Regions from separate parts of the Homo sapiens genome. Here region 1 is linked to region 2. The links come from fine-mapping of genetic effects on gene expression. A gene starts in region 2. The other region holds a variant in brackets. All regions are shown on one strand. Distances are between the middles of the regions. Region 1 overlaps CYFIP1 (cytoplasmic FMR1 interacting protein 1). Region 2 holds the start of CYFIP1 (cytoplasmic FMR1 interacting protein 1).

Region 1 (4,253 bases), 34 kb before region 2:
CGAAAGGGCATGAGGAACTTTAGACTGTCAAAGGCTTGGTCCCTTTTGTCTCAGAAACTGGTTGCTTTAATTTGCAGGCACTCTGTTCAGGGTGTTCACAGTGACAGTGATGGGTAGGAAGGGGTCAGCAACCCACCCCTCGGTGTTACACCCCCCCCAGATTATTTGCCATTTTACCTGGAAGTACATGAAATTCATCAGTTTTGTGACCTCAGGCTCCAGAACCTCCACGGTTTTCTCGTAGATTTCCACTCTGTTAGGCTGCTCGTTACATTTCACCTGGGAATAAAGGAACAAGGATGACATAAGAGGCTTTGATCCAGCCAGAAGCAGCCGCTGGGCTTCTAGAGCTAGTGATCCCGCCCTGCTGTGGGGTGAGAACTGGGAGGAGAGTGGGCCAGGCATGGCAGGGGCAGGGGTGTGGTGTGGCAGGGGCCTGGCAGGGTGTGGCTGGAGGGGAAGAGCCAGGCGAGCGTGGCACCTGTGGGATGGCCCGGGAGCAGCTCCTCCAGGTGTACAGCATGACAGCATATTCTTGGCCCTCCTCCAGCATCTCGTTCTGCAATGGAACACAGGGCAAATCAAAGGCAGGCGGGGGAACTAGCATGAAAAGCAGATGCCAGTTGCTAAAATCCAGACAAAGCGCCACAAACTATCCTAAGCACTGTGGCCTGTGTGCCAAGAGACGGCTGCCAGAAGCTAGTGACACTGAGGTGCGGCGCTGGGGGCCACAATGACCACCCAAAACACCCCATGGCTTCTGCAGGCGAGAGGGGTGTCAGTGACACGCAGGCATCTCTGAGGGGTGCCACAGGCGTTACACCTTGGCTCCACCCAGCCCTCAACAACCTGCTGGCCATGAGACCTGCAGTTAGGAACACAGAGGAAGGGCTCAGGGCAGACGCCCTGCCCGGTGTGAGCACACACAGGATCCCCATGGCCTCCTCACTGGCTCACAGGGCCTCCCGGTCCCAGAGAGGACTAGAGGCAGGGCTGCCAGCCCCGGGTGTGCAGGAGGAAAAGTTAGGAGCACGCCCACAGCACTTAAAATCTAGGTAGAGAGTCCATGGGAAGAGGACTGTCATCACTGCTGTAAAACTGCTTTTGCTTTCCACTCTTTAACATCGTTTCCTTTGGAAAAAATCAAATAGATGCTCTTAAATCTAGCCTTTATTTAGTGAGACGTTCATCACAGTATTTTTTTTTTTTTTTGAGACGAGTCTTGCTCTGTCCCCCAGGCTGGAGTGCAGTGGCACGATCTCAGCTCACTGCAACCTCTGCCTCCCGGGTTCAAGCAATTCTCTTGCCTCAGCCTCCTGAGTAGCTGGGATTACAGGTGTGCGCACCACCATGCCTGGTTAATTTTTGTATTTTTTTTTTTTTGTAGAGACAGGGTTTCACCATGTTGGCCAGGCTGGTCTCGAACTCCTGACCCTAGGTGATCCGCCCACTTTGGCCTCCCAAAATGCTGGGATTACAGGCGTGGGCCACTGCGCCCAGCCTACAGCATTTTTTTATTACACGACATAAAAGAGGAAGTCAATGCGCAAAAATAGTTGAATTGTGGACATTTACAAAATGGTTTACGTAGCCATTAAGGATTGCTTTCTCTAGCACATTTTCATGGCATGAAAATATTCTTGTCCAGGTGCAGTGGCTCAGGCTGTAATCCCAGTACTTTGGGAGGCTGGGCAGGCGGATTCCTTGAGTCCAGGAATTCAAGACCAACCTGGGCAACATGGTGAGACCTCGCCTCTACAAAAAACACAAAAAAGTAGATGGGCATGGTGGTGTGTGCCTGTAGTCCCAGCTACTCAGGAGGCAGAGGTGGGAGGATTGCTTGAACCCGGGAGGTTGAGGCTGCAGTGAGCCCTAATCACACCACTGCACTCTAGCCTGGGCAACCTGAGTGAGACCATCTCAAAAAAAAAAAAGAAAGAAAGAAAACCTGTTGATGAGA[C/T]CATTAAAATGCAGAACTAGCTAGGTGTGGTGGCTCATGCCTGTAATCCCAGCACTTTGGGAGGCTAAGGTGGGCAGATCACTTGAGGTCAGGAATTCGAGACCAGCCCGACCAACATGGTGAAACCCTGTCTCTACTAAAAATGCACAAATTAGCTGGGCGTAGTGGTGGGCGCCAGTAGTCCCAGCTACTCGGGAGGCTGAGGCACAAGAACTGCTTGAACCTGGGAGGCGGAGGTTGCAGTGAACCAAGATCGCGCCACTGTACTCCAGCCTGGGTGGCAGAGCAAGACTCTGTCTCAAAAAAAAAGCAGAACTATAATAACAATGCAATTCATTTATAAATCTAAATCTCATATGGGCACATACCTGGTGTGTGTGGGTGCAGATCTGGAGAGGGAATGAGCATTAACAGGGCAGGTGCACCCTTGAAACGCTGACAAAGGTTTTCTCTGGGCCAGAGACATTGAATTTTCAGAACCAGCATGTATTGTTTTTACACTAAGAAAAGCAAAGACTGTCTTAAAAATATAAGGCATTTCATTCATTTTCTTCTCTTTTTCCTCACTGCATAGTCTATTGGGATAATACCAAAAAGTATACATCTGTCCTTCAAACACGCCCTTCTCTGCAGAGAGAAACAAAGACACACCGCAACATTACCATGCTAGAGTGGACGGTGGCTTGTTCAATGTATCTTGCGATGCCAGTAACAAATGCATTTCTGTCTTCAAAGTTAGTGTTGAAATTTGGCTGAAGGAAAGGAAGAGAAAAACATCATGTGGGGTCGGAGCACAGGCTGTACGCCCTGCAGCTGCTGGGCACCCACCTGGTAGAGCAGCGAGGATGGCGGGGGCTCGATGCAGGGCTGCTGGTCGGGCAGGGGCAGCTCCTCCAGGAGGTCCACGTTGGACAGCGCGTCCTCCAGAGTCACCTGGGCCGCCATCCTGGGCTGGAACAACACATAAGGACCCCTGTTCTGTGAGGAGAAGGAGGGGACACCCAACAAGCTTCGAGGTTGGGTACCCAGGCCTCTAACCCCTTCCCGCTCTCCCGAGGGCACCGGACATGGCTGACAGGGGCATGATCAGTCCTTGGGAGTTGCGTGTCTCTCTCAGGGCACGTGGGCCAGCAGGCTGGGAGGCCCTGTGCAGCTTATCCTTCCACACTCGCTGAGAACAGGCTCTCCTGGCCTCCAGGAGGGTCACAGTATGGGGCACATGGTTCCTGCCATCCTTCCCACCATGGGGGCCGCCGTCCTGAGTTGCTGGTGCTGAGGACTCTCTCGAGGGTCTGACGACCCCCTCAAAGTGCTGGAGGGGCAGCACCTCTCCAATGCCACATCTGCCCAGCAGAGCCTCCCTAAATGCAGCCACCTCCCAGGTGGTGCCTCCAAACACACTAGGGCCTGACATGGAAAAGACGAGCGCCCTGCCGCCCAACACCAGCTGTCTAGCTGCACAGACAGGCTGAGATTGCAAGGAGTATGGGGCTGCCGCAGGGGACAGAAAGTGCCACACCGCAGCTGGAGCAGAGGTGCAGAAATGAAGGCAGACATCGTCTAAACACACCTTCAGAGCCAGCTCCAGGGAGAGGGGGCAATCTGCCTTCTGCTGAATCTGCTCCAGTCTCAAGGGTACTCAGGAGGAGCTCTGCCCTGGGATGGGACCAGGGGCAGCTGAGCCACATTCTATGAAGGAAAGAGCAGCAGGTGGCCTGGAGGAGACACTGAACAGAAGGAGCCCCAAATCCCTCCTCCAGCACTGGCGCAGGCATGGAGGTGCACAGTGGAACGGGTAGTCAGTCCCACTGCACTGGCTGAGGGTGGAGAAGGGAAGCTCTCCAGGGACCCAGGAAGCCCCAGTGGCAGTGTGGAGAGGAAGCAGCTCAGAAGAGCCAGCCGACAAAATTGCTCATGAGCTTCAAGCCCATCCTCAAGCTGCAGGGGTGTGGATCTGATCCTCTTCACACCCCAAACCCTGAGACCACAGCCAGACAGCCACCAGCGGCACACAGGGGGCAGGTCCAAGTGGCAGTGCAGGAGGCTGTGAAGCCAGAATTGACATGGAGCTGCCACCCACTGAAGGCAAGTCAGAACCACAGCCCAAGTCTCCTCAGGGTGTTTGCTTTCTAAAATAAAAATATCAACATCCTCCTAGGATTTTAACAAGACCCAGATCTCATATCATAACATCCAACCATCCACTTACAGCCCAGATTACTCAGCACACAAAGAACGAGGAACGTATGGGCTCCTACAGGAAAAGAGAATCAACAGATGCCAAAATAACACA
Region 2 (4,253 bases):
TATACACGGTTCTATGCTGTTTAATGTTTTTAATGAACTATAGTTTTGTAATTTTTCTCATCACTTTATCATTTTAGTCTCTCTCTCAGGCTGTATCCGAGAGCCACACTTTTCAGACCCTTGTATCTTTACTCTTCAGGGACAAACCAGAGCATAGCTGAATCTCCAACGCCTTATGCTAAGCGAAACAAGCCAGACTCCAAGCCCACATGTGACATTCTGGAATGGGCAAAGCAGGAGGACTGAGGAACAGACAGGCGGCTGCAAGAGCGGGGAGGAGAGAGGCTGCCTTCCTGAGTATCCTGACTGCGGTGGAAGTCACTACAGTCCATGCACCTGCTACAGCTCACTGAACTGAACACCAAAAAGTGAATCTTACTAAAAGTTTAAAATAAATTTAAACACACACACAAACTTAGGGGGTACATTTTCTTTGAGCGCAGCACAGACACCTGTCTTAACGCAGGAAACGTCCTCCGCCACGACTCCAGGGCGCCTCGGTCGCAGTGAGGGCACCGGCACTATATCCCTACTGGCCCTACGAGTGCACACCTGCTACGGCCCGCGCCCACTCACAGCGTGACTCGTTCTTCCAGGCTCCGTGCCTGCAGATCTAGACATCACTTGGAAAACCGCTGGCCACCCGCAGGGAAAAGGCAGCATGCGTGGGGCCCCCGCGGGTCCCGGCCTGGCCGGGACTCTGCCGCCAAGCTGTCAAGCATAGCAATGTGCGCACTGCACCAGGCATCACCGCGGCTCCGACCACGCCTCATTCCGGAGTCCGACGGACGACTGCAAGAAACACCACCGCTCCCGGCGCAGCCACGGTGCCCTCCGCCGCCAGAAAACAAACGCTCCCGAGCCTCAGTCCCCAGCGGCGACCACGCGGCGCTGGGCTCAATCAGCAGCCGCTCCCTGACTGGACTTAATAGCGGAGCTGACACCGTCCAGACGCCCCTCTCAGCTTAAAACACGTTCCATCAACCCCGTTTCCCGATTATTCTTGCACCCTTCTTGTCACACCCACAATGTGCTGCAAATTAAGCTCACGCATTTCAGCCTTAAAATACACAATTCAGATGCTTGTGCGAAACAGTGCTGCCTCCGTAACGATCGCGCCTCCTTAACAAAGCCCAAAACTCCTCTCTCCAAGAATGCCCGGAATGGCTCCGCGGACCAGGCTCCCTCCGCTCCTCACAGGGGCACGAAACAAAAACGGGTTCAGATCTTGCTGCGCGACCTTAGTGCAACATTAACAATCTGCCTGCTCCTTACTTTCCAACAAAAACGTCAAACACTAAGGTATTCCTTCGCCACTGGAGCTGTGCCATGTGCCGGGGCGCGGAATCCGGGATCCGGGGGCGCGAGGCGGTGAACGCGGGGGCGGGGAGCTCGGGGCCGAGGCCGAAAGGCCGGGGGCGCAGGGACCGGGAAGCCAGTGCAGGGAGTGCGGGGACCTGGAGCCCGGGAGGCGCGGGAGCCCGGGGCCGGGACCTGGGGGACGCGGGGACCAGGACGATCCCGGAGGCCGCGCCGCCGGGGAGGCCGCGCCGCCGGGGTTGGGGGGGAGGGGGGGGTCCGTCCCGGCCCCGCCGCCGCCCTGGCCGGCCCAGGTTCCGAGGGGGACCCGGACCCCGCGGAGGCCGCAGGGCAGGCGCGGGCGAGCGGGGTTCCTCACCTGCGTCCGCGGCGGCTTGGGGGTCCTGGGCGGGCCCTGGGAGTTTCCTTGGCCGAGTGAGTCACTCGGGCTGGCCGGGAATGCGCCAGGAAACACTCGGCCTCCTCCCCTTCCTCCCGGGGCGGGGGCTCTCCCGGCTCGGCCTCTTCCTCCCGGCGCTCCTCCCTCCCGGCCGCGGCCCCGGCCGCTCCCTCCTCCTGGCGGGGCATCCCCGGCCGGGCGGCCCCTTTCCCCACGCCAGCCGCCGAAGGTGTCCTCCCAGGCAGAGAGCCCCTGGCTACCTGCCGGCCTGGGTCACCGCAGCCTGCGCGGGACGGCGGGGTCGGAGCGGAGCGGGCGTGGGGTCCTCCTGCGGGTCCGTCCGGTTCGGAGCGCGAAGGAACGGGGTCCGCACCCTGTCCCGGGGCTCCACCGGGTCAGGGCGGGGGTTGGCCTGAGCTGCGGAAGGAGCTCAGGGGGACACCCAGGACGCCCGTGTGGCGCCGCCCCACTTGGCAGGAGGCGCTCACCTGCGCTCGTCGGGAGGGTTCCAGGCGCGGGTCCCAGCTGCAGGTCGGCGCGCAGAGCCCGCTGGGGACCCCCCCGGCCGGCCCCTGCGGCCCCATTGCCTGCGGGAACCAGGGACAAATCCGTGCGCAGACCTGCGGGAACGGCGGACGGAAGAAAACCTGATTTGAGCTCGTGCCAAAAAACAATCTTGAAAGGCCGGTGAAGAAACATACCTCACACGGAAACGCTGAGTGGAGTCAGCTGGTCACAGGCGTGTTTAGGAAAACTGCCCTAAACGCCCCGCTCAGCCGCAGCAACCTCACTCCCCATTCATCCGCGACCCCTGGTTCTTACGGAGAACAGTAAGGATGGGCATCAGATATTCTAGTCTGGTCTCTAGATTATGAAGGTTTGGTTACCCCCGCTTGTGCTCTGCGGTAAGGCAAAAAGCAGCAAATGAATCCTGACCAGCGGATTGAGACAATCTACCAGTTGACTCAATATTCGGATATCACTTTCTCACATTCCTGCAAAACAGGGGCTTTGGATAACATTCTGGTTCCCAGTCCACACATTTTCAAATCAGCAGATTACTCCTTTTCTGTGCCTAGGGTGGAGTCTCAAAATTAGATTCCAAAGGTTTTTACATTGTAGATGACATGATAGAACCCAAATTCAAGTTATACTGTGATAATTTAAAATATTGTAATCCCGGCCGAGCGCAGTGGCTCACGCCTGTAATCGCAGCATTTTGGGAGTCCGAGGCGGGCGGATCACCTGAGGTCAGGCGTTCGAGACCACACTGGCCAACATGGTGAAGACCCCGTCTCTACTAAAAATACAAAAATTAGTCGGGCATGGTGGTGTGGGCTTGTAATCCCAGCTACTCGGGAGGCCGAGGCAGGAGAATCGCTTGAACCCAGGAAGTGGAGGTTGCAGTGAGCCAAGATCGTGTCGCTGCACTCCGGCCTGGGCGACAGAGCAAGACTCCGTCTTAAAATAATAAAATATTGTAATCCCTAGAGCAATTAATAAAAAATAATACAGCTAAAAATCCAAGAAAAGAGATAAAATAGAATACAAAAATATGCTTGATCCAAAAGAAAGCAGGAAGGAAGGAGCAAAAAGCACATAAGGCAAAGACAAAGAGCAAGCAGTTAGACTTCAACCACATTAGTAATCACATTGAATGTAAATGGACTAAACATGTAATCCGTTTACTAACTGTAAATGGATTAAAACACAGAAATTGTCACATTGGATTAAAAACGAGACCCAAATATATTCTGTTTTAAGAAGACATAATTTTGGCCGGGCACAGTGACTCATGCCTGTTAATCCCAGCACTTTCGGAGGCCAACGCGGGTGGATCAACTGAGGTCAGGAGTTCAAGACGAGCCTGACCCACATGGCAAAACCCCGTCTTTACTAAAAATACAAAATTAGCTGGGTGTGGTGGCACATGCCTATAATCCCAGCTACTCAGGAGACTGAGGCAGGAGAATCGCTTGAACCCGGGAGGCAGAGGTTGCAGTTAGCTGAGATTGCGCCATTGAACTCCAGCCTAAGCAACAAGAGTGAAACCTGGTCTCAAAAAAAAAAAAAAAAAAAGACATAATTTAAATATAAGGACACAAAGAGGCTGAAATTAAAAAGATGCAAAAGGACATGCTAATCAGAAAGGTGGAGTGATTATATTAATATCAAAGTAGAATTCAACTCAAGGGGCACTATCAGTGATAAAAAGGACATTTGATAAAAATAAATGGGTCAATTAAGTATGAAAAAATAGGCCGGGCATGGTGGCTCACGCCTGTAATTCCAACACTTTGGGAGGCTGAGGCGGGCAGGTCATCTGAGGTCAGGAGTTCGAGACCAGCCTGGCTAACATACCCTGTTTCTACCAAAAATACAAAAAATTAGCCAGGTCTGGTGGCACATGCCTGTAATCCCAGCTACTCGGGAGGTTGAGGCAGGAGAATCGCTTCAACCTGGGAGGCGAAGGTTGCAGTAATCCCAGCTACTTGGGAGGTTGAGGCAGGAGAATCACTTGAACCCGGGAGGCGGAGGTTACAGTGAGCCAAGG

Evidence for each region. PIP is the estimated chance that this variant, and not a neighbour inherited with it, causes the effect. A credible set is the group of variants that fine-mapping cannot tell apart.
Region 1: its variant is the best candidate, but not a certain one, in a credible set for the expression of CYFIP1 in lung (TOPMed, PIP 0.72).

The regions. Positions count from the first base shown.
Region 1 is chr15:22,944,381-22,948,633 of GRCh38, forward strand. CYFIP1 (cytoplasmic FMR1 interacting protein 1) reads right to left here. Exons shown (of 31, transcript NM_014608.6): 2 at 2,789-2,911; 3 at 2,623-2,712; 4 at 482-559; 5 at 178-279. The coding sequence starts at 2,905. Among named protein-coding and RNA genes, the nearest start is that of CYFIP1, 34 kb to the right of the region's middle. RefSeq lists an enhancer at 2,748-3,432. The variant C/T (reference allele first, on the strand shown) is at 1,961.
Region 2 is chr15:22,978,609-22,982,861 of GRCh38, forward strand. It overlaps CYFIP1 (cytoplasmic FMR1 interacting protein 1), which reads right to left and starts at 1,760. Exons shown (of 31, transcript NM_014608.6): 1 at 1,679-1,760. RefSeq lists enhancers at 89-1,056, 1,057-2,025.